Regions from separate parts of the Homo sapiens genome. Here region 2 is linked to region 1. Evidence: fine-mapped expression QTL. Tissue or cell type: whole blood. Region 1 holds a variant in brackets; the other region holds the start of a gene. All regions are shown on one strand. Distances are from middle to middle.

What was found. PIP is the estimated chance that this variant, and not a neighbour inherited with it, causes the effect.
Region 2: it holds the start of MMP1, and the variant in region 1 is fine-mapped to the expression of MMP1 in whole blood (INTERVAL, PIP 0.98).

The regions. Positions count from the first base shown.
Region 1 is chr11:102,823,855-102,831,965 of GRCh38, reverse strand. It overlaps the pseudogene WTAPP1. Among named protein-coding and RNA genes, the nearest start is that of MMP3, 16 kb to the left of the region's middle. The variant C/T (reference allele first, on the strand shown) is at 4,966.
Region 2 is chr11:102,794,747-102,802,857 of GRCh38, reverse strand. It overlaps MMP1 (matrix metallopeptidase 1), which reads left to right and starts at 4,698. Exons shown (of 10, transcript NM_002421.4): 1 at 4,698-4,870; 2 at 5,358-5,602; 3 at 5,696-5,844; 4 at 6,069-6,194; 5 at 7,251-7,406; 6 at 7,567-7,684. The coding sequence starts at 4,766. It also overlaps the pseudogene WTAPP1.

The DNA.
Region 1 (8,111 bases):
GGGCCACAGATTTGCTGGAGGTACTAAATTCGGGTAGGACGCCTCGCATCTCCTGCCTCTTGTCTGCTAGTCGCATCGCAAGGACGTTTGCCCCGCGCAGACTCTTGCTGCTTTTGCTTTAGTTTTCACTGAGGTTGAGGTCAGCGTTCTTGCCTCCAAAGCTTGCGCATGTGTTTCATATTGTTTCCATTTTAGAATTCATTCATCTCCTGCCATCCGTTTGAAGTTTCGCTCAGTCTAACCCTTTGGGGAAGAGGGTTTTTTGTTGGTCATCTTGAATCCGAAGAGTCGCCTCCCAGATGCGGCCGTGGTCACCCACCGCCAGCCCCACCAGGGAGGAAAGGAAGGGGGCTGGTCGCCAGCAGAGCCCGATTCGTCGGACCTCGCTCTGGCTCTTCCCCGGAGTCTGGCGCCCCTCCGCGGCCACGGGACTCTGCGAGCTCCTGTTTATTGCACCAGCTGCGCTCAAAGGAAGAAATACGCAGCTTATTCAGTCCCCTATTGGTGATTCAATAAATACATTTATACATTAAATAAATGCAAAAACCAACTAAATAAAATGTTAAAGTAACAAAAAATAAAATTAGTTTGAAATAAGTGTAAATATTAAAAGAAAATAATTTTATAACATTTGAATATATTTATATAATATTTAAAATTAAAATATATTTAAGATAAAAATAATAAAACATAAATGAAATAAAATTGTGTGCATCAGTAGATTATTTTCAGTATTCAGTGTATCAGTAGCCTATTTTTTAATATTTTGCTGTGATATCCAACGCTACAGTGAATATCCTTAAGCACACTTGCATATTGGATGGAAAATCTAATCTTCAAAGGCTGAGCAGAGATACAGGAGCAGGAAAACTATTTGTTGGATTCTCCAACATGAGGGCCACTGATGCTCTTTACAACAGCAGCGTTGGTGAAGTGATGGAGCTGAATTCTGATTGAAGCTGGTAGAAAAGTTGGCAAGTTAGGGTGTTTTTGGCTATAGGTAGCAGAAAATCTCAACTGATTTAAAAATAAGGAATTTTCTGGTTCATATTACATAAAAGTACAGCACTAAGACAGGTTTTAGTTTCGGTGCGATCAGAGTTCTGGCTCCATCACTTTGCGGTTATCTTGGTTCTGTCCTTGTGTCAGTTTTACCTTGAGGCTGGCTTTCCTCACGGCAGCAACACAGCTATGTTGTTTAGTGTCCAGGCAACGCACCTTCTTAAATCACCACCTTCAAACACGAAAGGACAGTTCTGAGTGTCCTCCTGTTTGGACCATCCCTTACCATATGGTCATCCTAGACCAATCACCATGGCAGGGAGGATCAATCAATTTCACTGCAGTCATGTTTTTGTTACACAGTGAGGTGAAGGAAAGACATTGAGTCACCAATCTCTGTCCATCTACTACAAAGAGAAACTGGAATGTGAGAAAGTCGAAATAACAGATGCAAATAATTCTTAGGAAATGTTGTGCTGAGAAGGAAGTGGAAAATACTTTCTCTGTGCTATCAGACCTGATTCATAGTTCTTATGCATGTCTTAACTGTTAGGCTGGTAGTTGATTTCAATAATGCAGAAATATAAGTTTAGAGTAATTCAGTAGCATTGCCATAATCACATAGCAAGTACATAGCCAGGATCCAATTTCATATCCTTCTAGATTCAAAGATCATGTTCTTATTTTGTCTAGGGACCCAGACAATAAATCAGCCTGGTTGCCTTATCTTTTCAGTTTTGACTCCATTCCGAACTAGGGGTTCTGCAGTGTCATATGGCATGACCACATTGGGGCTGGTTCTTCCTCAATTCTGCAGTTTAAAATCCCCACAGCCCAAGGGCCGGGGTTCTTTTGAGTCTGATATCTAGCCCTGCTAAATTTCTTTGTGCTGTCCTAAATTGTAATGAACAATGGAGAACCTCACACCAGCTACTCGTCTGTAAATTTCCCCAAGCAATCTTGTTCCAGAAATGTTTGTTTGTTCCAGGTATGTATTTTTGTGCTGACAAGGCTTTCACCTGAATTTGACACCGACCAGAGGCTAAGCCCCAGGGACCAGACATGTAGCCCATGTCGGGACAAGACCAGCTCTAATGGTGACTGATGCTGAATCCCAGAATGATGTTTGATAGCTGGCTCAATTCCTCTTGCTTCAGGCAGGCTTATTGGAGTACGTTTGCATTTACAGGAAATCATGCAGTGACACTAGACTGGGGGAGGGACACTAGACTGGGGGAGGGACACTAGACTGGGGGGCAGGGGAGGAAAGCAGAAGCTGGGAATCTGGTTTGGACTCAGCAATAAACCAACAGAAATATGGGTTTGACACAAATAAGAACGTTCATAAACGATAAAGTACAGAATCTCACCAGTTAGTGAGCAGATGGGTTATAATGACAGAAGCATTTAAGAAGCCTATTATCACAAATCAAGCAATATGGAGATTAGCCGTGATCCTATTGTGAAGGAGCACTGTGGGAAGAGTGCATTGAAGCTACTCAGATCTGGCAGGAATAACTTGTGAAAGCAATTTTCTGTAAAATTGAAGAAGTTGGCAGGGTTTAATTATGAGAAAAAGTCCAGCTTGCTAACCACCTGGGATTTGGGTAGAATCATTCTGGAAGCAGCACAAACACCCTTTGCCTTGGTTTATAATCACTGATAATAATCTGTGTGTAAAACTTTAGTGGCTGTAGCGGACCTAAAATAGTAATTATCTTTTCTTTGGTTGGGAGCAAATTAGCTACTTCTGGAAGGAATATATGTATGTACATTATATATAATGTATATTATACATAATGTATGTAATGTATATTATACATAATGTATGTAATGTATATTATACATAATATATTATATTCTACAATGTAATCTAATATAATATATGAAACTCTATTACATTATGCATAATATACATTATATTATGTATGTATATTATATATACATGTATATATACGTGTATAAAAACGTGTATATACATATATACGTGTATATACATATATACGTGTATAAAAACGTGTATATACATATATACGTGTATAAAAACGTGTATATACATATATACGTGTATAAAAACGTGTATATATACATATATACGTGTATAAAAACGTGTATATATACATATATATGTGTATAAAAATGTATATATACATATATATGTGTATAAAAATGTATATATACATATATACGTGTATAAATGTATATATACTTGTATAAATGTATATTATGCATAATGTACATAATGTATATTATGCATAATGTACATGTTTATTATACACAATGTATATTGTATATAATGTATATATACTATATAACATTTATGTGTATTACATATTTATACAATGTAGATCATATATAATGTATGTTATGTATAATATATATTTAATAGAGAATGAATACAAGTGAGACTTTTGTTTAAGGAATGTTATTATGCTGTGTTATGTTTTGCAGTCACTGCTATTTTGAATATTTTCTGTTTTTAAGTTGTTTGCAAAGTGTATGAGAATTTGAGTTAAGTGAGTCAATTGATTGATTTATTAGATTACTAAGCATTACTTAAGTGTTTAGAAATATCTGGCTTGTTGGGTTTTAAGTCTGCATAATAGACTTGCATTATCTGAAAAAATTACCTACATTGAAATTGTAATTATGATTTGAAGTGTTGATGAAAATATTACTTATGAATTCAAATAGCATTAAATGATTAAGGTTAATTTATTATTTTTACTGTACAAATCAATAAATATTAATCAAAGCTAGTGAAAATGATTGTACTTATTTTTATATAAATATACTAGATTAATAAACAAGATTAGAAAGCTGAACTTAAAATATTAAGAAAACTTAGGATTTAACTCTTTAATAGATGGAGTATTATTATAATAAAAGTAAAACTCTAAGTATTAATAGGCATGCAAAAAAGGCCCCCTTAGACATTAGCAAATCCAATTGAAAGGCTAACGTATATTACTATTGCTATCTTAACACAGAAGGGAAACAAATACTTTGTATATACTATCTCATTTAATTCTCACCTATGAAGAAGATATTATTAAACTTTTTTACAAATATAGGGATGTATAGAGAGATTGCACAACATCCTCAAGGTCATACAGATAGTAAATGGCAGAGCCAGATATCTAATGCATCTAGTCTGACACCAAGCTTATGTTACATCCACTTTGCTGCCTCTCTATTCTTTAAGTTAACATGAATTAACCTATGATATGGTGTGGCTGTATCCCCACCCAAATCTTATCTTGAGTTGTTGCTCCCATAATCCACATGTATCATGGAAAGGACCTGTTGGGAGGTAACTGAATCAAGGGGGTGAGTTTTTCCTGTGTTGTTCACATGAGAGTGAGTAAGGCTCACAAGATCTGATGGTTTTATAAAGAGCAATTCCCTTATGCACGCTCTCTTGCCTGCCACCATGTAACATGTGCCTTTGCTCCTCCTTTGCCTTCTGCCATGATTGTGAGGCCTCCTCAGTCATGTGGAACTGTCAGTCTATCAAACTTCTTTCCTTTATAAATTACCCAGTCTTGGGTATGTCTTTATTAGCAGTGTGAGAACAGACTAATACAGTAAGTTGGTATCAGTAGAGTGGGGTGCTACTGTAAAGATACCCGAAAATGTGGAAGTGACTTTGGAACTGGGTAACAGGCTAGGTTGGAACAGTTTGGAGGGCTCAGAAGATATGAAAATGTGGAAAAGTTTGAAACTTCCTAGAGACTCAGAGGGCTTAGAAGACAGGAAGGTGTGGGAAATTTGGAACTTCCTAGAGACTTGTTGAATGGCTTTGACCAAAATGCTGGCAGTGATTTGGACAAAAAGGTCGATGCTGAGGTTGTCTCAGATAGAGATGAGGATCCTGTTGGGAACTGGAGGCCACTCTTTTATTTATTTTTCTGAGAAGGAGTCTAGCTCTGTCACCCAGGCTGGACTGCAGTGGCGCAATCT[C/T]GGCTCACTGCAAGCTCCACCTCCTGGGTTCACGCCATTCTCCTGCCTCAGCCTCCCAAGTAGCTGGGACTACAGGCACCTGCCACCGTGCCTAGCTAATTTTTTGTATTTTTAGTAGAGACAGGGTTTCACCTTGTTAGCCAAGATGGTCTCAATCTGACCTCATGATCTGCCCGCCTTGGCCTCCCAAAGTGCTGGGATTACAGGCATGAGCCACTGCACCTGGCCAGGTCACTCTTGCTATGCAAAGAGACTGGTGGCATTTTGCCCTTGCCCTACAGGTGTGTGGAATTTTGAACTTAGGAGAGATGATTTAGGGTATCTAGGGGAACAAATTTCTAAGTGGCTAAGCATTCAAGAGGTGATGGGATATAAAAGTTTTGAAAATTTGCAGCCTGACAATGAGATAGGAGAGAAAAACTTTTTTTCTGAGGAGAAATTCATACCTGTTGCAGAAACTTATATAAAACAAGGAGCCAAATGTTAATCACCAAGACAATGGGGAAAATGTCTCCAGGGCATGTCAGAGACCTTCATGGCAGCCCTTCCCATCACAGGCCCAGAGGCCTGGGAGGGAAAAATGGTTCTGCGGGCCAGGGCCAGGACCCCCCCTTTGCTGTGCACAGCCTTGGGACTTGGTGCCGTGCGTCCCAGCCACTCCAGCTGTAGCTAAAAAGGGCCAACATACAGCTCAGGCAATTGCTTCAGAGGGTGCAAGCCCCAAGCCTTGGAAACTTCCAAGTAGTGTTGGGCCTGTGGGTACAGAGAAGTCAAGAATTGAGATTTGGGAATCTCTGCCTAGATTTCAGAAGATGCATGGAAATGCCTGGATGTCCAGGCAAGAAGTTTGCTGCAGGGGTGGAGCCCTCATGGAGAAACTCTCTAGGGCAGTGTGGAAGTGAAATGTGGGGTTGGAGCACCCACAAAGAGTCCCCACTGGGACACTGCTTAGTGGAGCTGTGAGAAGAGGCCCACTGTCCTGCAGACCCCAGAATGGTAGATCCAATGACAGTTTGCACTGTGCACCTGGAAAAGCCACACTCAATGTCAGCCAGTGAAAGCAGCAAAAATGGGGGCCATACCCTGCAAAGCCACAGAGGCAGAGCTGCCCAAGGCTGTGGGAGCCCACCTCTTGCATCAGCATGACCTGGATGTGAGACATGGAGTTAAAGGAGATCATTTTGTAACTTTAAGGTTTAATGACTGCCCTGTTGGATTTTAGACTTTCCAGGGGACTGTAGCCCCTTTGTTTTGGCCAATTTTTCCCATTTGGAGCAGGTATATTTACCCAATGCCTGGTACCCACATTGTATCTAGGAAGTAACTAACTTGCTTTTGGCAGAAGGGACTTGCCTGTCTTAGATGAGACTTTGGACTGTGGACTTTTGAGTTAATGCTGAAATGAGTTCAGACTTTGGGGGACTGTTGGGAAGGCATGATTAGTTTTGAAATGTGAGGACATGAGATTTGGGAGGGGCCAGGGGTGGAATGATATGGTATGGCTGTGTCCCCACCCAAATCTCAACTTGAATTGTAGCTCCCATAATCCACATGTGTTGTGAGAGGGACTCACTGGGAGGTAACTGAATCATGGAGGTGAGTTTTTCCCATGCTATTCTCACGACAGTGCATAAGTCTCATGAGATCTGATGGTTTTATAAAGAGTACTTCCCTTACACATGCCCTCTTGCTTGCCACCATGTAAGACAAGCCTTTGCCCCTCCTTTGCCCTCTGCCATGATTGTAAATCCTCCTCAGCCATATGGAATTATGCGTCCATTAAAACTCTTTCCTTTATAAATTTCCCAGTCTTGGGTATGTCTTTATTAGCAGCATAAGAATGAACTAATACAGCCTATAAATGTGATTAAGAGCAAAAGAGATAGAGCAAAGAACAGACTGAGTGACATAATAGGGCAAGAGTTGGAATAAAGAAACAGCTGGAGTAGAGGAAGTGGTTGGCTCTTTGTAGCAGGTTGAGTCAAAGGGGTAAGTTTAGGTGACCTAGGAATGGATGTATAATACAGACATTCAGAAGTGGAAGGTTCATAATTTTGATAAGATCCTTTAAGTGACATTTTATATTATTTTTCTATTAATAAAATAAATCTTACGCCTGGTAATGAAATATCTCATGTGCACCCAAGGGCCTATTTCTAAGTAATGTAGCCATTTCATAATTCAAAAATAGCTGATAATTTCTCAATTAGGAAATGTCCATTACAAAATCACTGCAAAATCTGATGCCACAGGAGAAGCTTGAGTGACTCATAAAAGAGTACTGTGCAGGACATCTACACTCCTGGAACACATGTGGTATCTGAGACTACAAATGGATTCTTAAAGGCATGGAAATATTTTATGCATCTGCTGCAGAATACTGAACCAATATCCCTAACAAATTTATCTGAAAATGACAATTTAATCTTAAATTTTTCTGTGTGTGAACTTCCTTTGAATTTATTATCTCTCAAGTCCTAATGTGTTACCCTTTGACTGTCAGGTAGATGAAGTAGTCTTTTTCTCAATGTTCTGAGACCACATCAGTCTTGTGATTAATCAGATGCAAATTACATCCTTGTGAATGAGTGATCAACTTACAAAAAGAGTCATAACCATAAGACTATAGTTTGCAGAAATTTAGGTCAAAATCCTGCTCTGCTAAGAAAGGACAAAAATGCTTTCTACCTTTCGGGAGCTCACAATTGAGAATTATACCACTGATATGGAGATACATAAAGAGCAGACAGGGTAGGAGATATTAATTTGCTTTTTCATTCATTCATTCTTTCGACAATATTCACTAAGCACTCATTATATGCCAAGCACTTCTAAGAGCTTTGATAAATCAGTGTATTAGTTCATATTCATGCTGCTGATAAAGACATACCCAAGACTGGGCAATTTACAAAAGAAAGAGGTTTAATGGACTTACAGTTGCACATGGCTGAGGAGAACTCACAATCATGGCAGAAGCTTAGGAGGAGCAGTCATGTCTTATATGGATGGCAGCAGGCAAAGAGAGCTTGTGCAGGGAAACTCCCCTTTTTAAAACCATCAGATCTTGTGAGACTTATTCACTAGCATGAGAACAGCACAAGAAAGACCTGCCCCCATGATTCAATTACCTCCCACTGGGTCCCTCC
Region 2 (8,111 bases), 29 kb after region 1:
AGGCTGCAATGAGCCATGGTTATGCCACTGCATTCCAGCCTGGGCAACAGAGCAAGACTCTGCCTCAAAAAGTATAATAATAAAAAAATAAAGAAAGAATTATGGCTGAGGCATAAGTAGTTAAGAGTAATTAAAAAGAACTGGGTAGCAGGCTTAGAGAACATTTCACTTTGTGAAAAACAGAAAAATTCTGAAACAATGGAATATAGTTTGAATTCTGAATCATGGACTAAAAGCTCTGCAGGCCACACACGTGTGTATGTCACAGACTCCAAACAAGCAAGTCATAGTCTGGGCACATGATCAAAATCTCACAGGAAGCTTCCTCACATATTTCAAATCCATCTCAAATTCACATTCACAGATGTAAGAGCTGGGAAAGGACGGTTTTGACAGGGCTGAACTGAGCTATGGTATGAGTAGCACTCATCCCCAGAAAGTCTCTTGGTTTGAATTTCCTTTAAAAGGAGCTATAGCTGCAAAAATCTGTTTCACAAATGTGCTAACTATAAGCATTTTCCACAGTGTTTAATAAACCATGCAGATAAGAAAATATTATTGACAAACAAATTAATAAAATGCTCAAAATAATCTGATACTAAATGCTTGTAGCATGGCATGCAAATCACCAAAAATAAATGTGCTATGCTTCATATAAAATCTCCAGTAAGGCTGAGTGTGGTGGCTCACACCTATAATCCCAACACTCTGGGAGGCCGAGGTGAGAGAACTGCTTGAGGCCAGGAGTTTGAGACTAGCCTGGCCAACATAGTGAGACCTCATCTCTACAAAAAATCTTAAAAATCAGTGGGACATGGTGGTGCACATCTGTAGTTCTAGCTACTTGGGAGTCTGAGGCAGGAAGATTGCTTAAGCCCAAGAGTTTGAGGTCCCTACACTCCAGCCTAAGCGACAGAGGGAGACCTTGTCTCTAAATAAATAAATTAGTTAATTGAATGTCCAGTCAGTTGATATATCCAAATTCTTCCCATGGTAATTTTAAAAACTTTAGTCTTAGGAGAGTAAAAGTCATGGGCATAAGACTTCTTATAAACAACTCAGCCTAATGAGAAATAGACCCTTTATTTAAGTGTCATTTAAGTATCTATTTCTTCATTGATCTATTCATTTATTAACTCATGTAACAATCATTTGCAGACACCTACTATGTTGAGGTAGTATAAACTATAAATTCAACAAGTTTGATAAGGGAAATAAGAGAGATTGAGTGACAGCTTGAAGGGGAGGATTCTTTCAGGCCTGTGGGACCGGGTGGTGGCATGGAGACATTATTGTGGACTTGAGGGAGTTAATGTGACAGTCCTCGTGTCTCCAGACACTTTCTCTCTGTTAGGGAAGCAAGATTTCTATCCCCAGAGTATGTATGTGTTATGTCTGGACTGCAGTGGCACAGAACTGTGTTCAACGAGTGACTACCGCTCTGCTGTGTGCCCTGGGACTTGGGGTTAATTGATCAATCATTTCTACCCAGAAGGTAACCATGAGGACTGACGGAACCAGTGTGTACCAAGTGTCTGTTAAGTGTCTGGTCAATGGTTATCCATAAAGCTACTGCATGGCCATATGTAGGAAGAATACAGACCGTGGGGCAAATTTTTCCCACGTGTAACTCTCACAACAAAATAGCATTAAATACTTAATGTTTCTGGCTAAAGACCATTTCAAGACTTGCAGGACAAAAAAATAGAAAAAATATCTGACACTCAAATGGAGTTACAAAATTAAAACGGCTGAATTCCCCAGCATAAAAAAATATGAAGCAAGATTGAAATTTCAAGACTAAGTTTAATATGGAAAAATACAAATATGTTTGAGGCCTTTCACAGAGCAGCCAGCATGAAGCAACCAAGAAAACCACGGAAATAATCTGGCTGCCTGGAAATAGTCCGGAGTCAGCTGACACAGCCACACGAGAGCCCTCTTATGCTTGTCATAAGGGGTAAAGGAATAATTTCAGAAAATTACATTTAAAAGAGAATTATGGGGGAAGAAGATGCTCCCAGAGGAAACAAATAGTATGGATGTGAAGAGCAAATACAACTTTAACATGTTCTGAACTTCTTGGAAACTATGCTAAGTTTAGGCATTGCTAGGATTTGGTATGATTTAATCCCCAGCTTTCTGTTCTAAATTTTTGTTTTCTTTTTTACTCTCAAATAAATCATATGCTAGCACCAGCTGCAAAGTTACATATGTTGTATTAGACGATCTTCCATGAATACCTAACTGGAAATTCCAAGATTCAGGGCCATGTGAATCTAGGCTGGCTGCTTAACCAAAACTTAATTTAATTTTTTTCGTTTATTTTAGGAAAAAAAATTAACGAAAAGATGTTTCAAGCAACCAGTTTCCAATCCACGTCAGCAACTATGACATTTAATGAAACACTATGAGCATTTAGCATGAGAGCTCTGGACTCAGATGCAGGGAGCTTTGCTAGAGAAGGGAGGAAAAAGCAGGCATGATGTGGCGGGTTGTGGGGGACTCCAAGGCTCTATTTCCAACTTCCATCAGAGAACTTCTGTTTTCACCTGGTTTTCAAATTTGCTTTCCAAAAGGGATTTTGTTTAAGTAAAGGATACAGAGGTTTATAAAAGTTTGAAAACTTCTACATTGCAGGATGTGCAGGCTCTTGCCAGATGGGACAGTGTATGAGACTCTTCCAGGGTGACGTCTTAGGCAATTTCCTGTCCAATCACAGATGGTCACATGCTGCTTTCCTGAGTTAACCTATTAACTCACCCTTGTTTCCCAGGCCTCAGTGGAGCTAGGCTTGTCACGTCTTCACAGTGACTAGATTCCCTCACAGTCGAGTATATCTGCCACTCCTTGACTTTTAAAACATAGTCTATGTTCACCCTCTAATATGAAGAGCCCCTTTCACTATTTTCTTTGTCTGTGCTGGAGTCACTTCAGTGGCAAGTGTTCTTTGGTCTCTGCCGCACCCTCCCTCTGATGCCTCTGAGAAGAGGATTTCCTTTTCGTGAGAATGTCTTCCCATTCTTCTTACCCTCTTGAACTCACATGTTATGCCACTTAGATGAGGAAATTGTAGTTAAATAATTAGAAAGGATATGACTTATCTCAAATCAATCCAAGATATACTGAAGTATTGTTTATGAGTAAGATATCAGTCTTGACGCAGAAAGAAAACAGGAATCCATAAGGGGAGGAAAGTGTTGAAAAGCAAACCTGATACAGTGGGAAAGGTGGGAGACACCATAAGGTGCTGAAGTGATAAAACAGGCCAGTGTTTCTCCACTGTATGTTTTCAATAAATGCTTCCAAGGAAGGAGAGTGGGGCATGAGTAGGGGAGCTACAGAGATAAACCAACTTTTCTTACCAGGAATGCTACAGATAGCACTGGTGACACCGGTCACCAGTACCCAAGACAATTTAATGTGGAACATAAGTACAGGAATACACATCTTTCATTACAGAGCCATGTATTTATTTTAATGGGCAGGAGATGCTAAATAAGATCTTTTGAATGGAGGAATGCATAAATATATGAATGAATGCATACATGAAAGAATAAATAAATGCTGCCTAGCACCAAGGAGCGAAGATAGACTCATATCAAGGGAAACAAGTATGATTAAAAATAAGACCCCAGAGTCACGCTCAGTCTCTTTCCAGCCTTTTCATCATCCGGTACATTCAGACAAGTTTCAGGGAAGGATCCTATTTGTCCCATGATAATGATGGGCAAGGGGTGGGGAGTTATCTCATACTCCGCCTGTGGATGAGGGGTCTTCTCAGGTAAGGCTCTTAAATCCTAGGCCTGAGTAAATTTTTTCAAATTTTATTTTAGACAGGGTCCCTCTCTGTTGCCTAGGCTGGAGTGCAGCGGCACAATCACAGCTCAATGCAGCCTCAACCTCCCAGGCCCAAGTGATCCTCCCACCTCAGCCTCTTCAGTGACTAGGACTACAGGTGCATGACTCCATGCTTGGCTAACTTTAAAAAATGTTTGTTTGTTTGTTTGTTTTTTACAGAGATGGGGTCTCACCATGTTGCCCAGGCTGATCTTGAACTCCTGGGCTCAAGTGATTCCCCTGCCTCGGCCTCCTGAAATTCTGGGATTATAGGCTTGAGCCACCATGCCTGGCTCTGAGTAAAGATTAAGGGAAGCCATGGTGCTATCGCAATAGGGTACCAGGCAGCTTAACAAAGGCAGAAGGGAACCTCAGAGAACCCCGAAGAGCCACCGTAAAGTGAGTGCTGGGGGAGCTGAACTTCAGTCAGTACAGGTGCCGAACAGCCATCAGGTGCGCAGTGTTAGTAATTCCACCCTCTGCCCTGGGAGCAAGGTGTGTGGAGAAACCTGTAGCACTTTATGACCATCAGAACCAGTCTTTTTCAAAAAGACCATGGAGTACTCTTTGACCTGTGTATATAACAAGAACCTTTCTCAAATAGGAAAGAAATGAATTGGAGAAAACCACTGTTTACATGGCAGAGTGTGTCTCCTTCGCACACATCTTGTTTGAAGTTAATCATGACATTGCAACACCAAGTGATTCCAAATAATCTGCTAGGAGTCACCATTTCTAATGATTGCCTAGTCTATTCATAGCTAATCAAGAGGATGTTATAAAGCATGAGTCAGACAGCCTCTGGCTTTCTGGAAGGGCAAGGACTCTATATATACAGAGGGAGCTTCCTAGCTGGGATATTGGAGCAGCAAGAGGCTGGGAAGCCATCACTTACCTTGCACTGAGAAAGAAGACAAAGGCCAGTATGCACAGCTTTCCTCCACTGCTGCTGCTGCTGTTCTGGGGTGTGGTGTCTCACAGCTTCCCAGCGACTCTAGAAACACAAGAGCAAGATGTGGACTTAGTCCAGGTAAATGCTGCATTGCATGTGACAATAATGTAAATTTTTAGTTTGTATTTTTCTGCAGTAATGTAATAGAGTTTTTTAAGGATAGGTTTCTTATAAAGAGATTTTTTTTTTTTTTGCTAGAAACAGCACCCTCCACCCAAAATGTATCTAGCCATGCATACGCTCTCTTTTTCCAGTTGGAGGTGAGAGTGAACTAAAGGAACAACATCCAAACTTGTCTCCACAAATTGTAGACTTGTAACAGTATGCAAATCTTGCTCTACAAAAATTGCTCTACTATGAAGTTCTTACTTCACAATAACTAATAGTAGGGACATTTCTACTCTGAAATTTCATTTCTCACCAAAAATAAGGATAAAAGCAACTGCGAAATCTAAACACAAGGTTTAAAAGCAGTTCTCTGTTTTGGCTAAAACTTAATGCCATCAATTTTTAGAATAATGAGAAAGATTTCCCATGCAGTGTTTCGATAATTTTCTTTTGTCAGAAATACCTGGAAAAATACTACAACCTGAAGAATGATGGGAGGCAAGTTGAAAAGCGGAGAAATAGTGGCCCAGTGGTTGAAAAATTGAAGCAAATGCAGGAATTCTTTGGGCTGAAAGTGACTGGGAAACCAGATGCTGAAACCCTGAAGGTGATGAAGCAGCCCAGATGTGGAGTGCCTGATGTGGCTCAGTTTGTCCTCACTGAGGGGAACCCTCGCTGGGAGCAAACACATCTGACCTACAGGTAGGCAGACTGAGGGCCAGAGTGAGAGAGCTATTTCCCATGACAGTGGTAAGAAGTCATGTCCAATGTGTCTCTATTTTGTTTCATTCTAAGGATTGAAAATTACACGCCAGATTTGCCAAGAGCAGATGTGGACCATGCCATTGAGAAAGCCTTCCAACTCTGGAGTAATGTCACACCTCTGACATTCACCAAGGTCTCTGAGGGTCAAGCAGACATCATGATATCTTTTGTCAGGGGAGGTAAGTTCTTCTTATAGCACCTTAACCTCACCTTGCCCCTAGATCTCGTAGCTTTGCAACTGGAATTGATTGTTTAAGATGAATGTTGATTTTATGGGCTCGAAGAGGGAAACTGCATCACAGTTGATGGAAGTCTGTTGGCCTCTTAACAAAGCTAATGCTTGCCCTTCTGGCTTAGCTTACATAAGAACCACAAGGAATCTTTGTTGAATTGTTTCTTTCAGATCATCGGGACAACTCTCCTTTTGATGGACCTGGAGGAAATCTTGCTCATGCTTTTCAACCAGGCCCAGGTATTGGAGGGGATGCTCATTTTGATGAAGATGAAAGGTGGACCAACAATTTCAGAGGTAAGCCAATCAAATTTGCCTCTCTCAATTCTCCCACCCCTTCATGTTTCATTGTAATATTGGTTGATTTAGTTGAAAGAATGCATTCATAGAAGTATATATTTTTCTATTACCACTCAGAAAATTAGTGATACACTTAGAAAAGTGAAAGAGCGGTCTTTTCTGCTAGCTAACAACATCTTAGCAGTGACAACTAGGCCACTCTAAAATTTTTATTAAGAAAATTGTTGAAAACTTTGATGTTTTAATTGTGGGCATCAACATTGAAACTTTTTCATTAGAAGAAAACAGTGAAATTTAACAGCGGTCATAAACTTATGTGGAAATTAAAGAAAAGGAAGGCTTTTTGTGTTTTCCAAAATTTCCAGCAGTCAACATTTATCAGTTTTGTAAATAAGAAAAATATTAAATATTAGGCTGGGCGCAGTGGCTCATGCCTGTAATCCCAGCACTTTGGGAGGCCAAGGCAGGCAGATCACAACGTCAGGAGTTTGACACCAGCCTGACCAATATGGTGAAACCCTGTCTCTTCTAAAAATATAAAAATTAGACAGGCATGGTGGCACACGTCTGTAATCTCAGCTACTCAGGAGGCTGAGGCAGGAGAACCGCCTGAACCCAGGAGGCAGAGGTTGCAGTGAGCCAAGATCATGCCACTGCCCTCCAGCCTGGGTGACAGAGCAAGACTCCGTCTCAAGAAAGAAAAAAAGAAAAAGAAAAATATTAAATGTTAATAGAACATTTTGCTTCTGTGTGAAATAGTACGTGTCATTTAATCATTGATAATATTGATTAATCTGTGGTGCGCTTTCAGTCAGCTGAGTTTGTCTTTTAATTGTATCAATGTAATCATAGAGTTTAGGTTTCAACATGTCTCTTCGTTATTAATAAATGCATGCCTTCTGCCTTCGGAAAAAAGATATACATGCATATATTTCAAAAGTCACTGATAAAATAGTAACATGAGTCCTTGTAGTTGTAAATTATTTATTAGTTAAATGCCTCAAAACTGAATACCTTTCAAATAATTACAAATTGATTTATTGGCCTTTTTAGAGTACAACTTACATCGTGTTGCAGCTCATGAACTCGGCCATTCTCTTGGACTCTCCCATTCTACTGATATCGGGGCTTTGATGTACCCTAGCTACACCTTCAGTGGTGATGTTCAGCTAGCTCAGGATGACATTGATGGCATCCAAGCCATATATGGTGAGTATGGGGAAAAACATTACGGACAAGGGCCTGGTGGTCTTTATATGTATTTCAAATAAAACAGCCATTAGCGATATCCTTGAAGAAGCTGTCTTCATTGTTTATGTAGTTTTCTAATACTAGGCAAAACTAACTCTAGGTATTTTATTTTCCTTAGGACGTTCCCAAAATCCTGTCCAGCCCATCGGCCCACAAACCCCAAAAGCGTGTGACAGTAAGCTAACCTTTGATGCTATAACTACGATTCGGGGAGAAGTGATGTTCTTTAAAGACAGGTAAGATGTCAGTTCTTCTTTGTGATCTGCATTTGTAATAATAACAACATTCACCACTATGATTAACTATTATGCTTCACATGTTACTTATTTCATGCTGATTTACATCTATAATCACATGGTAGCAACCACATGCATTTGTGCAACATAATGTACTTGTAACAACTTTGTTTTTCTACATGTATTAGGTCAACTGATTCTCAGAAAATATAGTTGATTTTGAAAATCAGTATGTATGATCTTTTTTTACAGATTAGCAAAGTAAGTCAGAGAGAAGGAAAGAGATCTTTTGGGGGCATAGAGCTCATTGGTAGCAGAGCAGTTATTGGTCTTCTGTTCCCTATTTCAGGTCTCTTTTCATTATGCCACTCTTTATGGTGATAAGTATCATTGGACTTTCTTAGGAGAAAGTGGTCCTTTCCATAGC